Homo sapiens: one gene and its partners. The protein of the gene in region 4 interacts with the protein of the main gene of each other region in a biochemical or structural test. Each region holds a gene or a part of one and is shown on either strand. Other genes may lie near its edges.

What was found.
Region 1: the proteins of ING4 (region 4) and HNRNPD form a complex in vitro, tested with the Homo sapiens proteins (one study listed by BioGRID and IntAct).
Region 2: of the proteins of ING4 (region 4) and PADI4, one has a biochemical effect on the other in vitro, tested with the Homo sapiens proteins (one study listed by BioGRID).
Region 3: the proteins of ING4 (region 4) and EGLN1 form a complex in vitro, tested with the Homo sapiens proteins (one study listed by BioGRID).

What each region holds. Positions count from the first base shown.
Region 1 is NC_000004.12:82,356,970-82,363,996, reverse strand, and holds part of HNRNPD (heterogeneous nuclear ribonucleoprotein D0), read left to right. Parts: intron 1-4,357; coding exon 4,358-4,526; intron 4,527-5,176; coding exon 5,177-5,338; intron 5,339-6,552; coding exon 6,553-6,684; intron 6,685-7,027. UniProt on the Homo sapiens protein: Binds with high affinity to RNA molecules that contain AU-rich elements (AREs) found within the 3'-UTR of many proto-oncogenes and cytokine mRNAs.
Region 2 is NC_000001.11:17,339,182-17,346,208, reverse strand, and holds part of PADI4 (protein-arginine deiminase type-4), read right to left. Parts: intron 6,522-7,027; coding exon 6,396-6,521; intron 4,267-6,395; coding exon 4,088-4,266; intron 3,911-4,087; coding exon 3,807-3,910; intron 182-3,806; coding exon 70-181; intron 1-69. UniProt on the Homo sapiens protein: Catalyzes the citrullination/deimination of arginine residues of proteins such as histones, thereby playing a key role in histone code and regulation of stem cell maintenance.
Region 3 is NC_000001.11:231,412,287-231,419,313, forward strand, and holds part of EGLN1 (egl nine homolog 1), read right to left. Parts: intron 1-7,027. UniProt on the Homo sapiens protein: Cellular oxygen sensor that catalyzes, under normoxic conditions, the post-translational formation of 4-hydroxyproline in hypoxia-inducible factor (HIF) alpha proteins.
Region 4 is NC_000012.12:6,653,109-6,660,135, reverse strand, and holds part of ING4 (inhibitor of growth protein 4), read left to right. Parts: intron 1-3,336; exon of another isoform or gene 3,337-3,337; coding exon 3,338-3,409; intron 3,410-4,222; exon of another isoform or gene 4,223-4,498; intron 4,499-6,739; coding exon 6,740-6,906; intron 6,907-7,027.

The DNA of each region.
Region 1 (7,027 bases), on a different chromosome or scaffold from region 4:
TTAAAAAAAGGCAGCAGTAGGGTTTAAACCCCGGCATTTTGTCTTTATTGCCTCTAAACTTAACTTGCTTTAAAAGATGATAAAATGTCCCACAAAGGAGCCTAAATTCCTGAATGATACTGCATATCACTTGGATAGTTATCTATGCTGAGTTGTATAACTTTATGCTTGTCATTTAATTTTACAATTTGGTGGAAGCCAATGTGAAAGCAAGGAGACTTCTGTTGTGGAGTAGGTGTTTTAAACTGAATACCATATTCAGCCTTGGGGTGCTGAATATTTAGTTCACAGCTAGGATTAAGATACTCAACTATGTTAATAAAATACAGTAGATGAAGTCCTGCATTTTAATTGGGATTGATTCACTTAGAACTAAGGATCAAAGTTTAAACTTATTGCAGCGTTAGGGGCCATCTTTGTTGCTAGTTGAACAAGTCTTGGTCGTTTTTAACATGGCTCCTTAGGGTATTTTCTGAAGTTCTGTCTACTTCATTGGAAAGTGTTTGCACTACGCAGGAGTGACAGCAATATGAAATGCTTTGTATTCAAGGCAGCAGAGGTAATCTGGACAGACAGTACATGTGCTTTAAAAGCAAGATACAGTCATAGAAAATATGTAGATAATTTAGCCGGGCATGGTGGCTCGCGCCTCTAATTTGGGAGGCCGAGGCAGGTGGATCACGAGGTCAGGAGTTCGAGACCAGCCTGACCAATATGGTGAAACCCCATCTCTACTAAAAGTGCAAAAAAAAATTAGCCTGGCATGGTGGCATGCACCTGTTATCCCAGCTACTCAGGAGGCTGAGGCAGGAGAATTGCTTGAACCCGGGAGGTGGAGGTTGCAGTGAGCCTAGATCATGCCATTGCACTCCAGCCCGGGCGACAGAGTGAGACTCTGTTTAAAAAGAAAAAAATAAGTATTTGTAAATGTATATATATATATATATACACACACACACACACATATATATATAAAATCATTATGCCATCAGTTTGAGGGAGAGCATGTATGCCAACATTGTAGAGACTAAGTGCCCATTTATCCATAATTAAGATAAGCAGACTTTTCCCCATTGTACTATAAAGTTAGAGTTTGGGGCTGGGTATGGTAGCTTCCGCCTGTAATCCCAGCAGTTTGGGAGGCTGGAGCGGGCGGATCACTTGAGGCCAGGAGTTCAAGACCAGCCTGGCCAACGAGGGGAAACCCCGTCTCTACTAAAAATGCAAAAATCAAGTCAGGCGTGGTGGTGCAGCCTGTAATCCCTCCCACGGAGGCTGAGGAATGAGAATCACTTGAACCTGGGAGGCAGAGGTTGCAGTGAGCTGAGATTGTGCCACTGCGCTCCAGCTTGGGCGACAGAGTGAGACTGTCTCAAAAACTAAGCAACCAAAAACAGAAAAAGATGGAATGGAATTAATATGTTCCATTTAGTAAAGATGGAATAGAATTGGTCCAGTTTGTGTTCATTGTAGCATATTCACCTATTTGGTCAGCAACCATTTTTTTTTTTTTAAAGCCTAAGCATACCCTGAGAACAACAACCTTTTTTGATTAGAACAGAAGAAAAAGCCAGAGTGTTCTTGGGCTGCCAAAATATTAATACGTTTGTCTCAAAGACGAGCCACTTAGGTGCTTGCTTAGAGACTTCTACTTTACACAGAATTTGAAAAGTTTGACAGCTGGCTACTTACTCTGCAAAACGGAAGGGAGACTTTTTAGAACAGCAACTGGTGATCTGGCAAAAATGAAAAGTAGAACTTGTGAAGAAATGAGATGGACTTGGTGTATTAATAGCTAATTTTAGAAGACCCTGTGGATATTCTAAATCAGCATAATAGTGATGTCTGAGCCATAGTGTTAAATTATGATTACTGTATTTGAAGTATAAGAAGGCAGAAAAGTGTGATGCTGTTAGAAAAAAATCTCATTTCAAATGATTGAAGGTTAAAAACAATTGGGGAAAGATTAGAGAGGGCAGGCGGTGCTTTAAGGGAGGTGGAATAATACTTGGCTCCTTATTCTCCAAAAGTGCTGGATAGCTGAAGTTTTTAATATTCTGGATAATTGATATTTGATTATTAGTTTAGGAGGGATAGCATCTTCAGTGAACCCTTGTAGCTCTAAGGTAGGCATATTAAACAACTACCATACTAAAGGTGGGGAGTACGTTTGGAGAGCACTTTGCTGGGCCAGCTGATGATATGCTTAGGTGATATTTAAGAAAATCTGCTTCTTGTCTGAAAAACATTTGGGGCTTCAGAATAATACCACATACCTCATTCTTGGTGTTTTAATTTATTTCTTTGTAATTGTTTTCTGTTTCTTAATAATTTTAAATTAAGGGTATTTTCCCAATATAAACATTGCTTTTTGGTTAAATAAAATCAAAACTAGTTCTGTCTCCATATCTGAATAGACCAGACAGAGAATTTTCTTGCCTTTCAACAGCTTAAAAAATGTTTTTGTTAGAACTGTTGTGTTCAGGCTGAAATACTTTCAAAGTTTGTTAGTTATTATTGAGAAATTTCTGTAATAATCATGGAAAGGGTAATTTAATAGTTAAATCTCAACTTAATTGAAGTTATTTCTGTTGTGGAACTTATGGTCATCTTAGCAAGAGGTCATTGCTTTATAGTCAGTTCTCTTTCTCATTAAAAATATAGTGTACTCACCTTTACAGGGTGAATGTTGGTAAATAACTTCTGTCTGTGAAGGAAGTATTCTGGACCTGTAAGTTAAAAATAAGGTGTTTATAGCAAATTATGTAAATAAAGATTGTATATTAGAAGGTACACACTATTCAAATTAAAGAAAATGTATATTGAGAAAATAACTCAAATTTCTTCCATGAAATTGGCAAGAAGTAAACATTTCAAATACACAAAACATTATGGGTATTTTTGTTCATTTGATTATAAAATGCCAAAGTTGTTTTATAAATGCTACTTCAAGCCTGGAAACTTTGAGGAAGTCCTGAACATTAAGCATATAAATGGCCCAGCTCTAGAATACATGTAAGTTGAAAAGCTAACCTGAAGTGGGAAGCGCAGTATATACCTAAGACTTACTCTGCACTGAAAGTTTGCTTTGTCACTAGAAGTAAAACAAGACTGTGGTAGGATAGTAAGATCAGTAACACCTCAGTTAATCAGGTATCTTGGAGGAAGTGAAGAAAGACCCTAATTCAAGGGACAGTTAATTGGCCTTTTATTCCAAGAATGGGCCTTAGTGGCAGTATCTTAAAAGCCCACAAGATGGAGATGTTTCCTAATGAAAGGCCTTTAATTTCTTTATAGAGCTGAGTTAGTGTCACATCCCAGTCCCCACCCATGACCCTTCCCCAGTTAAAAAGAAGAGAAAATGTTGAGCAAGTCTGATTTGATTCCCATGGTGACATTTTTAGCCATTATGTAACAAATTCTGACAGTTTACCCTTAAAATTAAAAACCTCCAGTCCTGTCTTTTTAAAGGGTAGAAAGAAGGTTAGGTATAGGATAGCTTTTTATTTATTTATTTATTTATTTTTGTACAAAGGGAGCCTATGTAAAGCTGCCAGATCTGAACTTTCTGGTGTTTTGCTGTAATGTTAGTAAGATTTCGCCTTAAAATATTTTATTTTGAGTATATACGTTTGGTCTTAGAGTGTCTTGGTGGATTTCCGCTTACCACCCATCACTTTCTGCATTTTAAAGGCTTAAATACTTTATTGCTGGTTAACTGAGGTTCTACTGTAAACGAATCATCTAAGTTAATTAGTGGATTGTACTTCAATGGATAATTTTCACTAAATTGTTTATATTGCACATTACTTTTGTCTTAAGGACTCTTAGCACATCAAAAAAATTGGCTCACAACTTAATTGTGAGATGTAGAATTTTCCATTTTATGTGCTAAGAGTTTTGTTAATGAGAGAACTGTTAAAATAGAAAAGGAGCTTCAGCATAGACACCAATGCTGGTTGCTGAGATCAGTGGGGAACTGCATAGCATTTTAACAAGTTTAATGAACATTTGGAAGAGAAATTTGAAGCTAAGATTCTGGTTTTTTTGCTGTTAACTTTTTAATCTAAGGAAAACTTTTATGTACAGTATTTTTACTTTGGGTATATGTTTATCTTTTAGCAAGTTGAAAGACTTAATTTGCTGCTTGCTCACTATTTTGTAATTATTTGGGAGCAGCAGTAATAAGCCAGCTTTTTGGAATAGGATGTTCCTGATGTGTGGTTATGTAGGAAGAATGATGTTTTAATATACTGCCCAGTAAACTGGTGCAGTTTGGAAAAGGTGTGTTATTGATGTGGATAATATTTAAGGCAATTTTTTTTAAGCATTTTAATACTGCTTTTTGTCTTTACAGGAAAATGTTTATAGGAGGCCTTAGCTGGGACACTACAAAGAAAGATCTGAAGGACTACTTTTCCAAATTTGGTGAAGTTGTAGACTGCACTCTGAAGTTAGATCCTATCACAGGGCGATCAAGGGGTTTTGGCTTTGTGCTATTTAAAGAATCGGAGAGTGTAGATAAGGTAGTGTGTTACGTGTTCTGATCAGTTAATAATATAAAATATTAACATATGGATAGTTTGATACAATGAGTTTGCCTATTTGTGGTTCCCCATTTTGATAGTATAGGAAGGAAGAATAGTTCTTGCCCCAATACGTTTTATGAAGATAGAGGTAGGTTCAGGAATTATTTCCTGAATAATTTGTGTTCCAGGCTCTGCTAAATTTTGAAATTAACTTTAAAGATACTATAGACTTAAAGATGCCTAGTTAAAAGGATGTGTTTTAGCAATTCACAGAAGTCCATATTTTGAAATTTTGTTAGGCAAGCAACTTTTAACTGAATCATTATTTTGATCCTGGGCTAAAGGGAAGTAGCAGTTATGTTTGTATATAGTGCTAAAGGGAAGTAGCAGTCATGTTTGTATATATTGAAGGTAATGGTTATCTAGTAATTGGTTAAATTTGTGTATGTCCTACCATTCTTACCTTTAGATTTAAACAGTATATGTTAGTTGATGTTACATCACCACCATGACTTGACAGTTTAATCTTGAGCAAGTCAACATATGCTTGGCATTATCTGTATTTATAGTTATTTTTAAGTAAGTTAATAGTCTCTGAACTTCAGTTAAGATATATATTTTTTAAATGAAAACTTCAATTTCCTTAGGTCATGGATCAAAAAGAACATAAATTGAATGGGAAGGTGATTGATCCTAAAAGGGCCAAAGCCATGAAAACAAAAGAGCCGGTTAAAAAAATTTTTGTTGGTGGCCTTTCTCCAGATACACCTGAAGAGAAAATAAGGGAGTACTTTGGTGGTTTTGGTGAGGTATGTTATAAATGTTTTGACCCAGTTTATGTCAAAATTAGTGTGAATGTGATTGTCCCATTATGGACTCAGAGTCACTTGGCTTTTCAAAGCTGTTAGGGTAGATTATGTGATCTGTTTTGGAATAAGGATATTGTAAATACTTCATTAGCAGGTCTTTGAAGGTTGGATAATGTGTTTTTCTCATTGAGCACCTACTCTATGCAGAGTATTGCTGGGGTAGAGTATACAAAGATGAAATAGACAAACATTCTTAAATACAGACAATTAAGAGGAAGAAATCTAGATTAGAAGGAGACTTTTGTTGAAAATAGGAAAGGAATTAAGAATAGGGTGTAGTGCCTTATCAGTTGAAATGCATGTGTAAGTGCAAATTTAATGAGACTAATCATTATAGACTCATTAGTGAGGCTGGACGCGATGGCTCATGCCTGTAGTAATCCCAGCACTTGGGAGGCCGAAGTGGGTGGATTACTGGAGACCAGGAGATGAAGACCATCCTGGACAACATAGTGGGACCCCGTCTCAATTAAAAGTAAAACAAACTTAGACTCATTAGTGAAATAGGTAGATAATAGAGGTTTCTTTTATGAATTAATGAAAGTTGAGAAATTTGTGGCCTTGGGCTCCAGATACGTCCCACAGACATTTATTGCTTGATTGAAACAATAAGTGCTTTTTTAGTGTTGAGGATTTGAGATATTGCCCACAAAACTCAGTATCTAGCTTTTTAAAAAATACTTGCAAGAGCACGCAACATGGGAACTGACGCTGCCCTCCTGTACGGCAGCATCTCTCAAACTGAGTAGTAGCTTCCATCTTGGTTTGGGCATATGCTCTCCAGTTTTTAGTAGTCCTCACCACCCTACTTCCTGTTTTCTCTCAAATACATTTTTATTCTGTTTTTCTTAGATTTGACTGTTTTCTTCTTGTTCTTTGTGGGCATTTGAATTTGTGACCCTTGAGTTAGGTAGTAAATGTCAGTGCGTGGTAAAGCTTATTTTTGTAAATAGTTGTGAAGACCTTAGATGGAATGGGTGTTCTAATTTGAAGAATTCCTTAAAAGGATTAGAATAAATAGGGAGAAACAGGAGACTAGAACTTCAGTGCCAAATACATGTTTTCTTTGTGTGTTTTCCCCCCTCTAAACTTGTGTTTCTTTTAAGGTCAATAAAATGCATGTTAGCATATTAAAATTTGTTTTTTAATACCAGGTGGAATCCATAGAGCTCCCCATGGACAACAAGACCAATAAGAGGCGTGGGTTCTGCTTTATTACCTTTAAGGAAGAAGAACCAGTGAAGAAGATAATGGAAAAGAAATACCACAATGTTGGTCTTAGTAAAGTAAGTTAAGCATCCATTTACTTGTAGAGAAAACTAGCTGTTGTAAAGAGCTTAACCATTTATCTTTCTCTGTAAAGGCTTAAGTTCTTTGCATGCTTTAAAAACTTCTCATTGGTTACTTACCATTGACCAACTTTTTGTGGGGAGCAGGATGGACACATTTGTTAGTGTTTTTGTCTAGGCTTTCACAAAAATAGTTTTTAGAACTTGACAAGTAAAATGAAGTAACATCACTAGCAAGTACTCATAAGTGATTACTCTTAAGTACTAAATATTGGTTTAATTAATAAACTGACTGAGGAAAGTTTCAAATTAGCCTACTCTATTTAAACATGTTGGCTAT
Region 2 (7,027 bases), on a different chromosome or scaffold from region 4:
AGCCCGGGTCCCCCAAGTGTCTCTTGGCCCTCAGGGACAGTCACCCTGCCTGCCCCGCAGGGCACATACCTGCATCCACTGGTCATCCATGTTCTCCTCCTCAGGGCAGATGGTCAGCTTGCACTTGGCTTTCATGGCCAGAGTAGTCACTGACTTCAGGAAGTCCTCATTTTCAAAAATACTAGAGAGAGCAGAAAAGCAGCTCCTTAGTGCTCTGGAATTTGAAGCTCAGCCTGGAAGGATTGGGAGGGACACACAGGTGGCTCAGGGGTCACCTGTGGCCTGAACAGAGGCTCCTGGCACGTCCGGTCCATCTGCTCTTAGCAGGCATTAGCTCATGGAATCCATCTAACAAGTTATGAGGCAGGAACTAGTGGGTACCCCTTCCACCCGTGTATTAGTCCGTTTTCACGCTGCTGATAAAGACATACTTGAGACTGGGAAGAAAAAGAGGTTTAATTGGACTTACAGTTCCACATGGCTGGGGAGGCCATGGTGGGAGGCAAAAGGCACTTCTTACATGGCGGTGGCAAGAGAAAATGAGGAAGAAGAAAAAGGAGAAAAACCTGATAAAACCATCAGATCTCATGAGACTTATTCACTATCATGAGAACAGTATGGGAGAAACTGCCACCATGATTCAAATTATCTCCCACTGGGTCCCTCCCACAACACTTGGGAATTATGGGAGTACATGTCAAGATGAGATTTGGGTGGGGACACAGAACCAAAGCATATCATCCTGCCCCTGGCCCCTCCAAATCCTATATCCTCACATTTCAAAACCAATCATGCCTTCCCAACAGTCCCCCAAAGTCTTAACTCATTTCAGCATTAACCCAAAAGTTCACAATCCAAAATCTCATCTGAGACAGGGCAAGTCCCTTCCTCCTATGAGCCTGTAAAATCAAAAGCAAGCTAGTTACTTCCTAGATACAATGGGGGTACAGGTGTTGGGTAAATACAACCATTCCAAATGGGAGAAATTGGCCAAAACAAGGGGGTTACAGGGCCCATGCAAGTCCAAAATCCAGCAGGGCAGTCAAATTTTAAAGCTCCAAAATGATCTTTGACTCCAGGTCTCACATCCAGGTCATGCTGACACAAGAGGTGGGTTCCCATGGTCTTAGGCAGCTCTGCCCCTGTGGCTTTGCAGGGTATAGCCTCCCTCCTGGTAGGCCAGTTTCACAGGCTGGTGTTGAGTGTCTGTGGCTTTTCCAGGCACACGGTGCAAGCTGTCAGTGGATCTACCCTTCTGGAGTCTGGAGGACAGTGGCCCTCTTCTCACAACTCCACTACGTGGTGTCCCAGTAGGGACTCTGTGTGGGGGCTCCAAACCAACATTTCCCCTCTGCACTGCTGTAGCAGAGGTTTTCCATGAGAACACCACCCCTGCAGCAAACTTCTGCCTGGGCATCTAGGCGTTTCCACACATCTTTGGAAATCAAGGCAGAGGTTCCCAAACCCCAATTCTTGACTTCTGTGCACTTGCAGGCTCAACACCATGTGGAAGCTGCCAAGGCTTGGGGCTTCCACCCTCTGAAGCCACAGCCTGAGCTCTACACTGGCCCCTTTTAGCCATGGCTGGAGCAGCTGGGATGCAGGGCACCAAGTCCCTAGGCTGCACATAGCATGGGGACCCTGGGCCTGGCCTACGAAACCATTTTCTCCTAGGCCTCTGGGCCTGTGACGGGAGGGGCTGCCATGAAGACCTCTGACATGCCCTGGAGACATTTTCCTCATTGCCTTGTGGCTTAACATTAATCTCCTTGTTACTTATGCAAATTTCTGCAGCTGGCTTGAATTTCTCCTCAGAAAATGAGATTTTCTTTTCGATTGCATTGTCAGGCTGCAACTTTTCTGAACTTTTATGCTCTGCTTCCCTTTTAAAACTGGATGCCTTTAACAGCACCCAAGTCACCTCTTGAATGCCTTGCTGCTTAGAAATTTCTTCTGCCAGATACCCTAAATCATCTCTCTCAAGTTCAAAGTTCCACAAATCTCTAGGGCAGGTACAAAATGCCACCAGTCTCTTTGCTAAAACATAACAAGAGTCACCTTTGCTCCGGTTCCCAACAAGTTCCTCATCTCCATCTGAGACCATCTCAGTCTGGATTTCATTGTTCATATCATTATCAGTATTTTTGTCAAAGCCATTCAACAAGTCTCTAGAAAGTTCCAAACTTTCCCACATTTTCCTGTCTTCCTCTGAGCCCTCCAAACCGTTCCAACCTCTGTCTGTTACCCAGTTCCAAAGTTGCTTCCACATTTTGGGTATCTTTTCAGCAACGCCCCCCTCTACTGGTATCAATTTACTGTATTAGTCCATTTTCACGCTGCTGATAAAAACATACCTGAGACTAGGAAGGAAAAGAGGTTTAATTGGACTTACACTCCCACATGGCTGGGGACACCATGGTGGGAGGCAAAAGGCACTTCTTACATGGCGGCGGCAAGAGAAAATGAGCAAGATGCAAAAGTGGAAACCCCTGATAAAACCATCAGATCTCATGAGACTTATTCACTACCATGAGAATGGTATGGGGCAAACCACCTCCATGATTCAAATTATCTCCCACCAGGTCCCTCCCAGAACACGTGGGAATTGTGGGAGTACAATTCAAGATAAGATTTGGGTGGAGACACAGAGCCAAACCATATCAACTTGGGAGAAGACAGAATATGAGTTCACTGTTCAAGGTCACACCACCTGGAACAGTGCTGGGACCGGAATACAGTCCTCACTGGATTCCAGCCTGCGTCCTGACCACATTACCCTCTTACTCTTCTGCCCCTGAAGCTATCAGAAGAGGGGAGGAGAGGGTCTCCTGAGACCCCAGCACACTTGTCAGCGGCTCTCAGACTGCAGGAAGATTGCCTGGGCCTCCCCAAAATGCAGATGGGCCCCGTCCTCAGGGATAAGACCCAGCAGCTCACAGGCAGCCAGAAAGGTGCATTTTATTTAATTTAAATTTAATTTAATTTAATTTAATTTTTAATTTTTATTATTTTTAATTTTCTCAAGACGGAGTCTTGCTCTGTCGCCCAGGCTAGAGTGCAATGGTGCAATCTCGGCTCACTGCAACCTTGGCCTCCTGGGTTCAAGTGATTCTCCTGCCTCAGCCTCCCGAGTAGCTGGGATTACAGGCACATGCCACAACACCTGGCTAATTTTTTGTATTTTTAGTAGAGACGGGGTTTCACCATGTTGGCCAGGCTGGTTATTTTATTTTTGAGATGGAGTCTCACTGTGTTGCCCAGGCTGGAGCGCAGTGGCGCAATCTCAGCTCACTGCAACCTCCGCCTCCAGGGTTCAAGCAATTCTCGTGCCTCGGCCTCCTGAGTAGCTGGATTACAGGCATGCGCCACCACGCCCGGCCAATTTTTGTATTTTTTAGTAGAGACAGGGTTTCACCATGTTGGCTGGGCTGATCTCAAACTTCTGACCTTAAGTGATCCACCTGCCTCAGCCTCCCAAAGTGCTAGGATTACAGGCGTGAGCCACCGTGCCCAGCCCAGAAAGGTGCATTTTAAATGAGTTCCCAGGAGTTTCTGGTGCACAAGGTCCATGGGACACACTCTACAGGCCCCTGGGAGTTAACGTAGCCTCAGCTGCATCAGGGCAGGACAGAGGCAATGACAACAACAGTAGGGAACTTCCCTGCCTTTTTAGAGCCCCCAACAAGCAGCAAGCTCTCAGTGGGCAGGGGAGGGGTGACTGTTTTTCCCATCACACAGTGAGTGCTGCGGATGGAACTCAGGCTCTTTGTTGTCTGGACCCACCCCAGCACCCCAGGACCTCTCACCTGCACGCGTACACCTCCTGCGGGGGCTGGGTGTTGGGGGTCATGATCCAGGGCGCCACGCGGAAGACCACGCTGTCTTGGAACACCACAGCCTCGGGGAGCTCCTGCAGGGGAGGGGGTAAGGGGAAGGAGGGGCTGTCACCGCTGCCAGGGCCCAGCACCTACCACTTCCTGCAGCTGTTTGGAGTCCCCCTGCCCAGCTGGGCTCTGTACCCCTTTCCCTAGCCAGGCCACTGCCTGGAAGCCCAGGCCCCCGATGCAGGGCTGCCTTCTCGGCCTACCAGGTTGGACGTGTCCAGCAGGGAGATGGTGAGGGTAATGAGCCCCGGGAAGTCGGTGTCCGGGAAAGCGAGGGCCTCCACGTAGAAGTCCATGTTGTGCTTTCCACCGGGGACCATCAGGTAGTGAGAGGGCCACTTGGGACCCAAGACTACGCTGCACTTGGAGGACAGTTTGCCCCCTAGGAGAGAGGCAGGGGAGACTCAGGTCTGCGTCCCCACTTCTGAAGACTTTTCCTCCTCTCCTTAGTGCTCCCCAGAAGCCTTTCCCAGGGTCACCACATGGCACCATCAGAGAACCCCTTGCAGCCAAATCTGGCCAGTCCCCTTAGGAGAAAAGGACTGAAGTTCTAGCTGGGACGCTGCTCCCCGGCTGAAGTCCCAGAAGGGTGTGGCAGGGGTGCCTGAGCTATTCCAAACTTTATAGGAAGTCCAGTATACACCATTCCTTCACTCATTCCTGAGCATCTGCTCTAGCCAGATGTCAGCGGGGGACAGGGGCACAGCAGGGGACCAGGGAGACAGAGTCACTGTCCTCCTATCCTCACCCCCAGAGAGTGCACAGTCTTACGGGTGAGTAGGGAGAAGCAGAGATCATGAAAATAGCAGACAGCTGTGATAGAGGGAATCCCTGAGAACTTCCTGGAGGAGGTGATGCCTGGGTGGAGGCAATAAGTTGACCTGTCACCAAATCAGTGTCAGTTTAATCACTTTAAGAATGAAACAGGCCGGGTGTGGTGGCTTACGCCTGTAATCCCAGCACTTTGGGAGGCCGAGGCAGGAGGATCACAAGGTCAGGAGATCCAGACCAGCCTGGCCAACATGGTGAAAGCCCATCTCTACTAAAAACACAAAAAAATTAGCCAGGCATTGTGGTGGATGCCTATAATCACAGCTACTCGGGAGGCTGAGGCAGGAGAATTGCTTGAACCCAGGAGGTGGAGGTTGCAGTGAGTTGAGATTGCGCCACTGCACTCCAGCCTGGCGACAGAGAGAGACTCCATCTCAAAAAAAAAAAAAAAAGAAACAGAGGCTGGGCATGGTGTCTGTAATCCTAGTGCTTGGGGAGGCTGAGGCAAGTGGATCATTTGAGGTCAGGAGTTCGAGACCTGTCTGGCCAACCTGGTGAAATCCCATCTCTACTAAAAATACAAAAATTAGCTGGATGTGGTGGCACATGCTTGTAACCTCAGCTACTGGGGAGGCTGAGACAGGAGAATCTCTGGAACCCAGGAGGTGGAGGCTGCAGTGAGCCAAGATGGCACCACTGCACTCCAGCCGGGGCAACAGAGTGAGACTCTCTCAAAAAAAAAAATTAAAAAAAAAAAAAAAAAGCTTGGAATAGACCAGGCAGAATGATCAGGATCAGAATGATTGTCAGGCCCATGCAAAAAAAAAACCCTCCCATGGCGCTCTCCATCTCCTTCCATCCAGAAGCCAAAGTCAATATACGCCTACCTGACCTCCCCCTTCCCCTCTGCCCTGTCTCTTCCACCCTCATCCCCCACTTTAACCCTTGCACATTCCGCCCCAGCTGCACTAGCCTCCCTGCATTCCTCCAAACCACAGGCATGATCTCACCTCAGGGCCCACGCACTTGCCGTTCCCTCTGCCTGGAACGCCCTTCCCCTAGGTGTCTGTCTGGCTGTTCCTATACCTCCCTCTGCTCACATGGCACCTCATGGGGGACACCTTCCCTGGCCACCCTCTCTCCACACAACCCGAACTCCACTCCTCACTCCACATCCCCTTCCCTGCCGCATTCTTCTACATAGCATGTCACAGCGTTGGACACACTAGGTGTTTTATGTAATTATTTTACCTATAGTTCTCCCAGCCACTAAGATGAAAGCAACACGAGGGCAGGGACTCGGTCACAGTCATGGCTCTGTGCCCCGTGCCTGGGATCAACCTGGCACCTACTTAGTTGCAGGTGCTCGTGGGTCACTGAGAAGTTCCTGATGTCTCTGATTAGCAGGATGTTGCAGAACAAATGATTACATGCCACATGCTGTCAGCTTGCACTCAAAGTCTATAACCAGGAGGTGTGTGTGTGTGTGTGTGTGTGTGTGCGCGCGCGTGTGTGAGAGAGAGAGAAAGAAAAGCAGGGAGCAATAACGAGTCATTTTGTCTGTGTCCTCCAACTGGAAGGTAGTAGACGAGATGTCGTCTGTCTTGCCCACTGCTGCGTCTGCTGTTCTTAGAACTTGGCACATAGTAGGTGCTCAGGATTTATCTGCCACACAGCTGTGTGACAGGATTGTGCCCCGTTGGCCAGGGCAGGAGGGGAACAAAGATGGGGATGACTTACGTGTGGCCTGAAACACCCTCACTTTGTCCATCTCAGACCTGGCCACGTGGAGCACCAGTGTATGGTTTGTGAAGAAGTCCTTGGGGGTCTTCGTGCTCAGGGTCATCAGCGACATGTCCTGCAGGTCTGGGATGAGAAGGGCATTGCCTGAGTCACAGGGCCCTGAGACCGCTGCTGGTTTCCCATAGCCACCTCACCTCCTGGTGGAGCCTCACACCCCACCGCTCCCCTGAGACCTCCCTTTACCATGTTGCCTGGTTTTCTTTTCTTTATGCTATTTTGAGTATTTAAATGATGGTTTTCATTTTGGAATGAGAGCTCATTAAGGTTTTGGTCTCCTCCCACTAGGATGAGCTGGGGATGTAACCTCAGCAAAGCGGGGACCACATTTATTAATATTTTGCTCCTTGCAACGTTCCCTGAATCTTGAACCTAGAAAGCCGAGAACTCCCTAGAACAATGACCAGCAGGCGGCAGGCGCTCGGCTGAGATTTGTGCAATGAACGAGTGAAAGGTTTCTGTGCTGGTCCTGAGCAAGAAGTGGGGTTTGTGAACCAACTTGAACAATAGCCAAGAAGGGGTAGAGGGTGGGGAGAGTGAAGAGATGGTTCCCAAGGGACTGACTGATAGCC
Region 3 (7,027 bases), on a different chromosome or scaffold from region 4:
TGGAACTATTTTTGATATTTTACGGTAATTCCATTCTTCCCAATTTTCTGTAACAGTTTTATTTTCAACAGTAGGTTTAAATGAAGATGTTTTATTTCTGACTTCATTTTGACATTGAATCTAAATCTATGCTTCCCTTATGTTGAACCATTCAATTTTCTCTAATGTTCCCCTAAAGTTCAAACTTCGTATATTTCTTTTTACGTGGATTCACAAGCCATCTTGAATGAGTGGTTCATGCAAGGAAGCACAGACATACTTATAGACAACACTAAAAGTGTTGCAAGGTTTCCTGCAATAATTCCTGAAGGCGGTTCCACTGGTAGAGCTGATACAAGCATACTGCACAGAGAAACCTTAAAACCTCTAGAGAAGAAAGGATGGGGCTAGAAGGTCAACAGTAGTAGTAGCTAGCACAGCCAATTTGAAGGAATGTGAAAATATAGAACATATAACTTTTTTCTTGTTGCTTGGCTGGGAAGTAAGTGTCAGCAAGCTATCATAAATGGCAACACTGAAAAAGTGGGGGCAAGAGAAGAAAAGCAGAAGACTTAGGTCAAAATAAAACAATAATTTCCTTCCAATCGCTCAAGCCAAAACCCTTTAAGTCATTCATGACTCTTCCATTCTTTCATACCCCACATCTAATGTATCAGCAAATCTCATTTGATTCTACTTTCAAAATATATCCAGAATATATCCTACACAAACTGATCTCATTTCCTATCCTACTACATCAATCACATATCCTTTACTCCTTCCACTAAAACCACAGTGGTTTCCTTGCTGTTTTCTGTTTCTTTTTTTGAGACAGAGTCTCACGCTGCTGCCCAGGTTGGAGTGCGGTGGCATCATCTTGGCTCACTGCAAGCTCCACCTCCTGGGTTCAAGTAATTCTCCTGCCTCAGCCTCCAGAGTAGCTGGGACTACAGGCGGATGTCATCACGCCTGGCTAATTTTTGTATTTTTAGTAGAGGTGAGGTTTCACCATGTTGGCCAGGCTGGTCTCGAACTCCTGACCTCAAGTGATCCGCCCACCTCGACCTCCCAAAGTGCCGTGCTTGCTGTTTTCTGAACACACCAAACACATTTCAAGTTAGGGCCTCTGTATTTGCTATTTAATACCATTCCTGAAAATGCTCCTCTTCCACATATCCACATAACTAATTTCCCACTTCATTCAAGTCACTATTTAAATGTCACCTTATTTTACCAATCTTATCTAAAAGAGTACTCCCTAGTCACTCTGTCCTTATCTTATTCTCCATCTTAATATTTACCACCTAACGTGCCATGTATTACTTGTACATCTGTTTATTGACTGTCCCTCCCCACCCCACACTTCCTCCAACTAGAAGATAAGGTCCATGAGAAGGGGGGCTTTTTGTTGTTATTCAGGACACCCTAGCTCCTAGAACAGGGCCTGTATGTGCAGGGTACTCAACATTTGTTGAATGAACAAATGAGTGAAAATAGTATCAAAACAGGACTCAGAAAATATAACAAAGGGTAAAGAGTACACGTATTTTGCTTTGGTAAAGAAATGGGACCTGGAACACTGAATAAGAAAAAAGAGAATTCCAAACTCATGAAAACTTTATGGGGATCTCAAGTCAACAGACACTGTCCAAGCTCTTCAGAAATGAAACTAATTCTGAATTGGTTATGGAAAAATGTGATTATGAAGTACAAAGGTGGCAGAAAAGTTGAGTTTTGACTACGAAATAAGGCATGAAATAAACTGTTGTAAGAGAAGATTTTGGTTAACCATCTATATCAATTTTTTTTTAGAAGAGATTTAGCTGAAATAAAAGGCAAAGACAAGCTCTGAAAATGGACTTAGTAAATTATCTGAATGCCATCATGTAGTCACAGACAATGTTCCAAGTGTGGAAACGAGGGCACAGTGGAAAAGAAGGTGGAATGTAAGCACAGAAGTAAAATCTAAGAAAAAGAAACTGCCCAAGAATGTGCTAGAATAAAAGGGAGACTGAAATAGTTGGGGTAGCTTTAAAGGCCTAAAGTGAAAAATTAAACAAAAACAACTAAGCTGACAACATCAATCCAAAGGCATATCAGAAAGGCACAGGCTTCAGAAAACATGGAAGAAGAACAAAGATTTCAAGCCTGATGGGAGAGAAAAGGGAAAGGAAAACAGGAGTAAACTGTCACTCAGAAACACAGAGTGGGAAGACAGCTCCTACTAAAGAAACAAGAGAGGGTAGGCCTACTTCAGGGCAAACGGCTTTAAATAGTATCAGAGGAAAGACAGATGGATAAAGAACATTTAAGAAAATTAGGTAGGAGAAAAATTTAAACTAGAATGTCAGATAAGCCAACATGTAGAATGACAGAAGCAAAAGGGAGAAGAAAGTCTCGAATGTTCAAGCATATTCTCAAAAATGGCAGAGGCCCAGTGCGATGGCTCATACCTGTAATCCCAGCACTTTTTTTTTTTTTTTTTTGAGACAGGCTCTCGCTGTCACCCAGGCTGGATGAAGTGCAGTGGTGCAATCACAGCTCACTGCAACCTCTACCTCCCAGGCTCAAGCGATCCTCCCACCTCAGCCCCTCAAGAAGCTGGGACTACAGACATGTGCCACCATGCCTGGTTAATTTTTGTATTGTTTTTAGAGATGGGTTTCACCACGTTGCCCCCTGGTCTGGAACTCCTGGGCTCAAGCAAATCCGCCCACCCTGGCCTCCCAAAGTGCTAGGATTACAGGCATGAGCCAGCACTTTGGGAGACCAAGGCAGGAGGATCATTTGAGGCCAACAGTTCTAGACCAGCCTAGACAACATAACGAGATCCCGTCTCTACAAAAAAATTTAAGAAATTATCCAGGTGTGGTGACACATGCCTGTAGTCCCAGCTACTACGGAGACTCAAGTGGGAGGATTGTTTGAGCCCAGGAGCTGGAGGCTGCAGTAAGCCATAATTGCACCACTGCACTCCAGCCTGGGCATGTTAGGCCCTGTCCTTTAAAAAAAAAAAAAAAAAAGCGTAAAATATGCCAAAATTAGTTAAGTAGAAATATGTATAAAGTTACAGATATGAATGAACTAAATCAAAGGTCTGTTGATTTTGTCACCAGCTCTATGACCTTGAAGAAGTTAATCTCTCTGGGACTTTTTTCTCTTAAAAAAATGTTATTTCTTCTCTTTTAAAAAAAAATGTGTAAATGCAGGAAAAGTGGTTAGGTAAAAAAATGGGTGATCATTCTAAGCCCTTTTTTCTCCAGTTTATCGGAGGGGAATGAGACAGGGAAAGCACAGAATTCTTAAAAGAATCAGAAAGATAGCAAATTTTTTAAATGGGAGAAGTAATAGTTAAGAACAGTTCTGCATAGCGCTTTACCATCTAAAAGGTGCTTTACATGAAACATTATATGTTCACCTCACAACAAGCCTGAGAAGCTAAAAACACAGGTATCACTGAACACCATTTTATAAACGGAGCAACTGACGACTCAAGAAATTAAGAAACTGGACTAAGGATACAGAAACCATAGCAGACCCAGGATCCAACCCAGATCTAATGGCAGAACCAAATCCATTATCTTTCTTTTTTTTTTTTTTGAGACGGAGTCTCGCTCTGTCGCCCGGGCTGGAGTGCAGTGGCACAATCCCGGCTCACTGCAATCTCTGCCTGCCGGGTTCAAGCGATTCTCCTACCTCAGCCTCCCAAGTAGCTGGGACTAAAAGGCATGCAACACTACACCCAGCTTATTTTTGTATTTTTAGTAAAGACAGGGTTTCACCATGTTGGTTGGCCAGGATGGTCTCAATCCCTCGACCTTGTGATCCACCCGCCTCAGCCTCCCAAAGTGCTGGGGTAACAGGCGTGAGCCACCGCACCTGGCCCCTTTCTTTCTTAATAATTTTTTTTTTAATAGAGATGAGGTATTGCCATGTTGCCCAGGCTGGTCTTGAATTCCTGGACTCAAGCTATCGTCCCACCTCAGCCTCCCAGAGTGTTGGGAATTACAGGGGTGAGTTACCACATCTGGCCCGGAATCCATTATCTTTCAAAGTTAAAATGATCTCTATTATCATCTCCTCCTCCTCCACGTAATTAAGGATTTGTGGGTATTTTTGTGGATTATTAGGTAGTAGATAAGTAAAGAGTTACATACATACAAAAAAAAAATTTTTTTTTTTTTTTTGAGATAGGGTTTTGTTCTATCACCTGGGCTCAAGCAATCATCCCACCTGAGACCATGGGCTCGCACCACCATGCCTGGCTAATTTTTTAATTTTTTTAGAGACAAAGTCTCACCATTTGCCCAAGCCAGTCTTGAACTCCTGGGCTCAAGCGATCCTCCTGCCTCAGCCCCTCAAAATGCTGGGATTATAGGCGTGAGCCACTAAAGCCCAGCCTAAAATAATCTTTTAACGTAAAATAAAATTCCTTTCGAACTAAAGGAGTTAGTTTACATGTAAACTACACATCAACTCACTACACAAAATGTTTTCACATATAGTTGATCACAATCTATTAAGACTACCCTCTCAGTCCACACGTCCCTTATAGCTGACAGAATTACTGCAGTTGTACTATTTTCAGCCTTTCTACATACAGAGTAACTCACTTTTAACTTAAATTCTGACATAGTTATAAAATCATTAAACAAGTAACTTCAATTTGTGTATCCTGGATCCCAAGCATACAAAGAGAATGGAAAAAGGAGATAAAGGTGTACTTATGTATTTAGGTTTAAATAACATAAGTTTATTTTCTCACAGTTCTACAAGCTGAAAGTCTGAGATCAGGATGCCAGCATGGTCTGGTACTGATGAGGGCTCTCTTCCTGGGTCAGTTTCGTTTTTAACATCTAAGAGGATTGTTCACCACATCTCTGTTAGTGATAATAAAACAGCTGCATTTTCCTCATCCTATTCTTTGCTCTAAAAGCCATAATCAGCCAGACCTAACTAATTAACTACAGTAATAGTGAAAAATCTTAGTAATATAATCTGCTGCTTATTAGTCCCAACCTATTTTATTACTCCTTTTCTTTATGTATGTTTTAACGGAACAGATGAAGTTTTGGATTAAATTCCAAAAATGTTATGTATATGATTCTAGTATTTCTATTTTAATGGGAAAATGTTTTCCTTCATAGTGGCGAAGAAACTCCAACAGAAAAGTTCAACATTTTCCCATGATCCTCACTCCTCTGCATTCCTCTTCCTCCTGTACCCCCAAGTCAAGGCACACTACTCTTCACAAAACAGCAGACCATGGTTTCTTTCTACTGCATATCATTGAGACTCTTCTTGATGAAAACAAGCATAAGCAAGGACATAGGATCAAAGGGCAGGGTAACGGCAAAAAGGAGAAAATCCCAAAAAGACCAGAGAAAGTGGAAACAGGAGCTTGGTTGTATCAGTGGCTACAATTACATTTCTGTTTTTCTCCTGTATGACTTCATTTTTCCCTTATGGTTCCTTTTTTAAAGTAGTTGCATAAACAGCGGCCAGATAAGCATGTTTGAAGTAGAAATTCAGGGGAAAACAAAGCCTACACTGAATGGGCCACAGACTATCATGTATCATCTGATTACCATGCCCTGACATAAAGAGCATGCAATATACATGATGTAAATAAAAAAGAACATCAGATTCTTAGTCAGAAAACCTGAATTTAAGTCCTAATATGCTGCAGAATTTCCAACAAGTGAACTAACTTTTCCTGAGTCCCACTTTTCTAATCTATAAAAAAAGGGATACAACCACCTGCCTACTGCTGTGAAAGTTGAAATGAGAAAAATACTACACATTTGCTGCATATAACTTTTAAAATCACTATAATGTTATGAAGGATAAAATTCTGAATTGAAGTCTCCCTCTGCAATCACATAAAAAAACCATATTCTGACATCTGTTAACAGTATACTGACAGGCGCATAATTCAGGTGGATAAATACAAAAGTGGCTTTTAAGCCACTATCTGAAATAAACATTGTACAGTCACCTAATAAAAAGTTTTACACAGCCCAACCATAGAGTATGATTACTCACATATAAAGCTAGTGCTATTCACCCACTTTCAACAAAATATATGTATCAAATTGCAGTTCCAGCAGTGTGCTAAATAATCTACATCTCATTTAATGTTCTACCTATAACTAGCGTAGTTAAAAAAGAGCATGGGTTTGATATCTGAATGACTTAAGTTTGAACACCAGCCAGGGTTATAGTAAGTGGTAGACCTCTGCCAAGTCTGAGCTGAAAATCCCTCAAATGTAAATTAGGAATAACACTACTCACTTCACAGAATTAAGATTATTGTGGCCAGGTGAGGTGGTTCAAGTCTGTAACCACAGTACTTTGGGAGGACAAGGCAGGAGGATCCCCTGAGCCGAGGAGTTCGAGATCAAATGATCAGCAAGACCCTGACTCTACAAAAAAAATTTTTTTTCATTTGGCCAAGTATGGTGGTGTGTGCCTACAGTCCCAGCTACTCGGAAGCTGAGATGGCAGGATAGCTTGAGTCCAGGAGGTGGAAGCTGCAGTGGGCCATGCTTACACCCTTGTACTCCAGCCAGGGCAACAAAGCAAGACCCTGTCTCCAAAAAAAAAAAAAAAAATACTCTGATTGTATCTGTATTGATCCTAATATGATGCCTAACACACTGTGGTTGGTTGCTCAATATACGGTGGGTGGTTATTTTGATTGCCTTCTCATTTCCACAAAGCAAACACCCTTGTTTTTTAGGAATAAATTACATGTTCAAACACGATTACCAAAACCTCTTTCAGCCAAGAAGTACAATGAAAGGAATTCCTGAATATCATTTATAGATCCTGAAGTTGCGTCCCTAAAATTAATATAAGCAGATCAAATCCAAAGAGTTTAAAGGTCATCCCTCCTTCATCCTGTCCCTTATTACCTGCTAATATGTACAGTTACGTGACTTAAAACCCCAACAACTAGAACTCTTGAGGAAGGAGGTACCTATTTCCTAATAGCATCTCTATGAGAAGCATTTGCTCTAAGAGCCAGGCTGTCTGCTGTCCCTTC
Region 4 (7,027 bases):
GATTTCTCTTGTACTGGGGTGACAAATATTCATGCATTTATTCAAGTATTTACTGAGTACCTGCTCTTTGCAAGTCATAATTCTAAACACTATGGAAACAGGAGAGAATATGATAGCCATGTTCGGCCTGGGGAGACAGATACCAAATAACTAATTACACATTATTTTTTTTAATTTTTTTGTTTTTTGAAACAGTCTTGCTCTTTTGCCCGGGCTGCAACCTCTACCTCCCTGGTTCAAGCAATTGTCCTGCCTCAGTCTCTTGAGTAACTGGAACTACAGCCACAGGCCACCATGCCCATCTATTTTTTTTTTTTTTTTTTGAGACAGAGTCTCGCTCTGTCGCCCAGGCTGGAGTGCAGTGGAGCGATCTCGGCTCACTGAAAGCTCCACCTCCTGGATGCACGCCACTCTCCTGCCTCAGCCTCCCGAGTAGCTGGGACTACAGGCGCCCGCCACCACGGCCAGCTAATTTTTTTGTATTTTTAGTAGAGACGGGGTTTCACCATGTTAGCCAGGATGGTCTCAATCTCCTGACCTCGTAATCTGCTCTCCTCGGCCACCCAAAGTGCCGGGATTACAGGTGTGAGCCACCGCGCCTGGCCTAATTTTTGTTTTGTTTTGTTTTTGAGATGGAGTCGCACTCTGTCACCCAGGCTGAAGTGCAGTGGTGCGATCTCAGCTCACTGCAACCTCCACCTCCCGGATTTAAGCAATTCTTGTGCCTCAGCCTCCCAAGTATCTGGGATTACAGGTTTCACCATGTTGGCCAGGCTGGTCTTGAACTCCTGGCTTCAAGTGAGCCACCCGCCTCGGCCTCCCAAAGTGCTAGAATTACAGGCATGAGCCACCGTGCCTGGCCCTAATTTTTGTATTTTTAGTAGAGATGGGGTTTTGCCAGGCTGCCAAGGCTGGTCTTGAACTCCTGGCCTTGAGTGATCCACCTGCCTTCCAGAGTGCTGGATTACAGGCATGGGCCACCGCACCCAGCCAACTAATTACACATTTATTTAATTACAGTTGGATAAGTGCTTTAAAAAGGTGGCTAGAATACCTTGACATAGATCGAGGGCAGTTAACAGAGTCTGGGAAAGTTGAGTTTGAGCTGAACTTTGGAAGAACGAACAGGAATTTAATAGGCCAAGAGGGATGGGGTGGATGGGATGAGGAAAAGCGAGCGGTGCATTCCAACTAGAGAGAACAGCATGTGGAAAGCCAAATGGCAGGAGGAGCACAGGCCAGTTTGAGGCAGTGCGAGGAGGCCAGTATGGGCAAAGCAGAGCACAAAGGGAGACTGACATGAGTTCAGGCTGGTGTGAGGTAAGCAAGGGCCAGAAAGCGCAGAACATCTTCAGAGCAGTAGGAAGTGACCAGAAGGTTATAAGCGGGAGAGTGACTTGATTAGGTTTGCATTTTTTATTTTTGTGTTTGTTTTTGTTTTTGTTTTTTTGAGTCAGTGTCTTGCTCTGTCATCCAGGCTGGAGTGCATTGGCGTGATCTCGGCTCACTGAAATGTCCACCTCCCAGGTTCAAGGGATTTTTGTGCCCCAGCCTCCCAAGTAGCTGGGATTACAGGCATGTGCACCAAGCCTGGCTAAGTTTTTGTATTTTTGGTAGAGACAGAGTTTCACCATGTTGCCCAGGCTGGTCTTGAACTCCTCAGCTCAGCTGATGCGCCCACCTGGGCCTCCCAAAGTGCTGGGATTACAGGCATGAGCCACCGTGCCTGGCCAGGTTTGCATTTTTTAAAAAGGACATTCTGGCTACTATATGGAAGTAGATTGGAAGTGTTATGTGTATAATAGAGGATACCAGGAGACTATTTGTAATTTGAGGACAAAGAGCTTGGAGGCAGAGATGGAAAATAAAAGAAAGGGGCCCGTCTTAGTGGCTCATGCCAGTAATCCCAGCACTTTGGGAGATCAAGGCGGGCGGATCACCTGAGGCCAGGAGTTCAAGACCAGTCTGGCCAAAATGGTGAAACCCTGTGTCTACTAAAAATACAAAAATTAGTCGGGTGTGGTGGCGCGCGCCTGTGGTCCCAGCTACTCCAGAGGCTGAGGCAGGAGAATCACTTGAACCCAGGAGGTGGAGGCTGCAGTGAGCCAAGATCGTGCCACTGCACTCCAGCCTGGGCAACAGAGCCAGACTCCGTCTCAAAAAACAAAAAAGGAAAAGAAAGGGAAGAGCTTTTTTTTTTTTTTTTGGAGACAGAGTCTCGCTCTGTCACCAGGCTGGAGTGCAGTAGTGCAGTCTTGGCTCACTGCAACCTCTGCCTCCCAGGTTCAAGTGATTCTCCTGCCTCAGCCTCCTGAATAGCTGGGATTACAGGTACGTGCCACCACACCTGGCTAATTTTTATATTTTTAGTAGAAACAGGCTTTCACCATGTTGGCCAGGCTGGTCTCGAACTCCTGACCTCGTGATCCACCCGCCTCAACCTCCCAAAGTGCTGGGATTACAGGCTTGAGCCACCACACCTGACGGGAAGAGCTTATTTATAAAGGAAGGTCACTGAAGGCGAAAAGGGTGGGATAGCCATGCAGAAATGGAAAGGTTTTGTAGAGAAAGAGTTAAGCATGGCCTGTCATGAGAGAACTGATCCATCCTGTCACAGATAAATCCAGAGGTTCAGAGGAAGGAAAACTGAGCTGCACTTTATTTTTTGTTTGTTTGTTTGTTTGTTTGAGATGGAGTCTCACTGTGTCGCCCAGGCTGGAGTGCAGTGGTGCGATCTCGGCTCACTGCAAACTCCGCCTCCCAGGTTCATGCCATTCTCCTGCCTCAGCCTCCTGAGTAGCTGGGAGTACAGGCGCCCGCCATCGCACCTGGCTAATTTTTTGTATTTTTAGTAGAGACGGGGTTTCACCATGTTAGCCAGGATGGTCTCAATCTCCTGACCTCGTGATCTGCTCTCCTCGGCCTCCCAAAGTGCTGGGATTACAGGTGTGAGCCACCATGCCTGGCCATTTGTTTGTTTTTGAGACAGGGACTTGCTCTATTGCCCAGGCTGGAGTGCAGTGGCTCAATCACGGCTCACTGCAACCTCTGCCTCCTGGATTCAAGTGATTCTCATGCCTCAGCCTCCCAAGTAGCTGGGATTAGAGATGCCCACCGTCACACTAGGCTAATTTTCATATTTTTAATAGAGATGGAGGTCTCGCCATGTTGGCCAGGCTGGTCTTGAACTCCTGGCCTTGAGTGATCCACCCCCTTGGCCTCCCAAAGTGCTGGGATTGCAGGCGTGAGCCACCATGTCCGGCCTGAACTGCACTTTAAAAGGAGCTGTAAGGCCTATGCATAGTCAGTCCTGTGATTGTTTCTCTCTCTTCCCTAGGTATTGAAAACCTTCCCTTTGAATTACAGAGAAACTTTCAGCTCATGAGGGACCTAGACCAAAGAACAGAGGGTATGTATAGAGTAAAAAGTTTTTGTATCTAATGAGTGTGTGTAATCATTTATTTTTCTACTTGATGTTACCGTATCATCTGGTATGATCTGGAGAACTGTGGCTTCTCTCGCTCCTTTTTTACGCTCTTGGAATTCTTAAAACAGGATAATGATCCTCATTTCTGTGTCAGCTTTTTCATAACAAATAGAGTATTGTGAAAACGCCTCAAGAATTCAAAGATGCTGTGTTCTTTATGTCTTCCTGGAGAATAATTAGCCAGGCTGGCTCACACCTGTAATCCCAGCACTTTGGGAGGCCTAGGCGGGCAGGTAACTTGAGGCCAGGAGTTTGAGATCAGCCTGGCCACATGGTGAAACCCCATCTCTACTAAAAATACAAAAACTAGCCAGGTGTGGTGGCACGCACCAGTAATCCCAGCTACTTGGGAGGCTGAGACGTGAGAATCGTTTGAACCTGGGAGGTGGAGGTTGTAGTGAGCCCAAATCATGCCACATGTCACTGCACTCCAGCCTAGGCAACAGAGCAAGACTCTGTCTCAAAAAAAAAAAAAAAGAAGAATTAAAGAAAGTCAACTCGAGTCATTTCTGCTCTCCACGTTTGATATATTTATAGGATGACTAGAATGTTTCTACTTCTCTCATTGTTAATGTTACTGTCACAAATTCCCAGTGTGACTTTAGACTGCAACATATGTTGGTAGATGGGAGGTTTGCTATATGAGAAGTCCTTAAAAAGAGAAAGAAAAAAGAAAGAGGAAAGAAAAAAAAGCAGTAATTGACAATGGGATCTCTATACCGTTCACACTTACAGAAGCATTAGATACCATCTCCAGCCTGGAACATTGAGCAAATTTGGCTGCATTGGGGCATTCACTTGGTTTCTTCAAAGATGTCTGTTGGAGCTATTCCCATACCCACTGAAGGATCTGTAGTCTTGTCTTCATTCTATGTAGCCATGTTCAAGGATGTAACAGACTGGTTTTGAGATACATGAAGCTGTGTCTTAAGTTACTCTGAGTTTACACATGAAAAGGTGAACATCATCAAAAACCCTGGACACAGTTCCCTGAGAACTGCCTGCCGAATGGTGAGAACCAGATTGCTTTTTTTGTAATACAGTTGTAACTCTTGAGTTCATGCATGGAAAGACAGTTGGAGATTATGGAACTATATGCTTTTTCAGCTTCTTCCAAGAGCCTGGAATGAAGTGGAGTATAAACAGTGTCTTCACAGATCCTCCTGGTTATCTGTTGCTGCACTATGTTAGAGTCAGACTTGTCTCTTACTACTGACATATTTATGAGCCCTTCCAAATATTAGTAAACATCTATAGTCTCAATGTCCTGGGACATTACCATTCTTCCAATATTAAAACATTTGGGGCCGGGTGCGGTGGCTTACGCCTGTAATCCCAGCACTTTGGGAGGCAGAGGCGGGTGAGTCTCCTGAGATAAGGAGTTTGAGATCAGCCTGGCCCATATGGTGAAACCCTGTCTCTGCTAAAAATACAAAAATTAGTCGGGTGTGGTGGCGCATGCCAGTAATCCCAGCTACTCAGGAGGCTGATGCAGGAGAATCGCTTGAACCTGGGAGGTGGAGGTTGCAGTGAGCTGAAATCACACTACTGCACTCCAGCCTGGGCAACACAGTGAGACTTGGTCTCAAAAAAAAATAAATAAAATAAAATAAAACATCTGGGAGACCGGGTGCCGTGGCTCATGTCTGTAATCCCAGTACTTTGGGAGGCCGAGGCGGGCAGATCACTTGAGATCAGAACTTCGAGACCAGCCTGGCCAACATGGTGAAACCACATCTCTACTAAAAATGCAAAAATTAGCCAGATGTGGTGGCGCACACCTGTAGTCCCAGCTACTTGGGAGACTGAGGCACGAGAATCCCTTGAACCCACGAGGCAGAGGTTGAGGTGAGCCAAGATCGTGCCACTGCACACCAGCCTGGGCAACAGAGCGTGACTCCGTCTCAAAACAAAAAAACGTGTTTGGAGCAATATCTAGGATGGACAAACAGGAAAAAAAGAAGTAATGGAAAATGAAAGAAGTTGCAATGATGAGCCAAATAGGATGGGCAGCCTGGCTGCAGTGGCTCACACCTGGAATCCCAACACTTTGGGAGGCTGAGGCAGGTGGATCATTTGACCAGGAGTTCAAGACCAGCCTGGGCAATATAGTGAGACCTCATCTCTAGAAATAATTTTTTTAAAAAAATTATCAGGGTGTAGTGGCATGTGCCTGTGGTCCCAGCTACTCCAGAGGCTGAAATGGGAGATCATTTGAGCTCAGAGGTTGAGGCTGCAGTGTGATCCATGATCATGCCACTGCACTCCATCCAACCTGGGCAATAGAGTGAGACCCTGTCTCAAAAAAAAAAAAAAAGAAAAATAGAGTGAGCAGTAAGATAAGCAGAATTGTTACATGGATGTTGGAGTAAGGTCTAATTTTAAATTGTGTGATATACTCAACTACTCAGGAGGCGAAAAGATAGAATCACTTGAGGACAGGAGTTGGAGGTCAGCCTAGGCAACAAACATAAGAGAGAACCTGCGCCTGCCTCTAAAAATAAATAGATTAGGCCAGGCATGGTAGCTCACCCCCAATAATCCCAGCACTTTGGGAGGCTGAAGCAGGCAGATTGCTTGACCCAGGAGTTCGAGACCAGCCTGGGTAACGTGGAAAAAGCCTGTCTCTACAAAAAAATAGAAAAAATTAGCCAGGCGTGGTGGTGCCTGAGATGGGAGGATCACCAGAGCTCAGGAAGTTGAGGCTGCAGTGAGCCATGATTGTGCCACTGCACTCCAGCCTGGGCGACAAAGTGAGACCCTGTGTCAAAAAGAAAAAATACTAATAATTTTGAAATGTATGATATTGATGTACAGACTTGGAAACCAGCAACAGCAGATGACTCAGCCTGATTTGCGGCAGACAACTGCTGTGGGATGTTTTTGAGAAGGAAACAATGGCTTTTGAGACAAAATTCAAGAAGCAGCAAGCCCTTCAAAGAAGCATCTTCAAACATGGACAAAAATACACTTCATATTAATGTGGTGTGCAAAGGATCCCTTGCTGTGTTTCAGTAATTTAAATTCCAACTATGATAGCAATGTTTTCAGCACCTTGAAAGGACCTTTAAAGCAAATATTGTCAGTATGTTCCATTACTTGAGTGCATGGCACAGTACCTCTGAACATTCAGTACTTTTTAGTTGGAAGGTTATGCTAATCAATGGAAAAGGTCCAAAGAACAAAAGGAAGAAATGTGTTTCACCTAGCCACTCAGGGGCCATTGTGACCAGGCCTCTGTCTCTGTTGTAGACCTGAAGGCTGAAATTGACAAGTTGGCCACTGAGTATATGAGTAGTGCCCGCAGCCTGAGCTCCGAGGAAAAATTGGCCCTTCTCAAACAGATCCAGGAAGCCTATGGCAAGTGCAAGGAATTTGGTGACGACAAGGTGCAGCTTGCCATGCAGACCTATGAGATGGTATGGCCCTGTTCATGGCTCCCCACCTACTTCCCATCTAATCCTCAGGGTCTTAGACCCCTCCTTCAACTGTGTTGGGATCTGTTTGGGGTCTGTGAGATCCATAAACTCTGCCTTAACC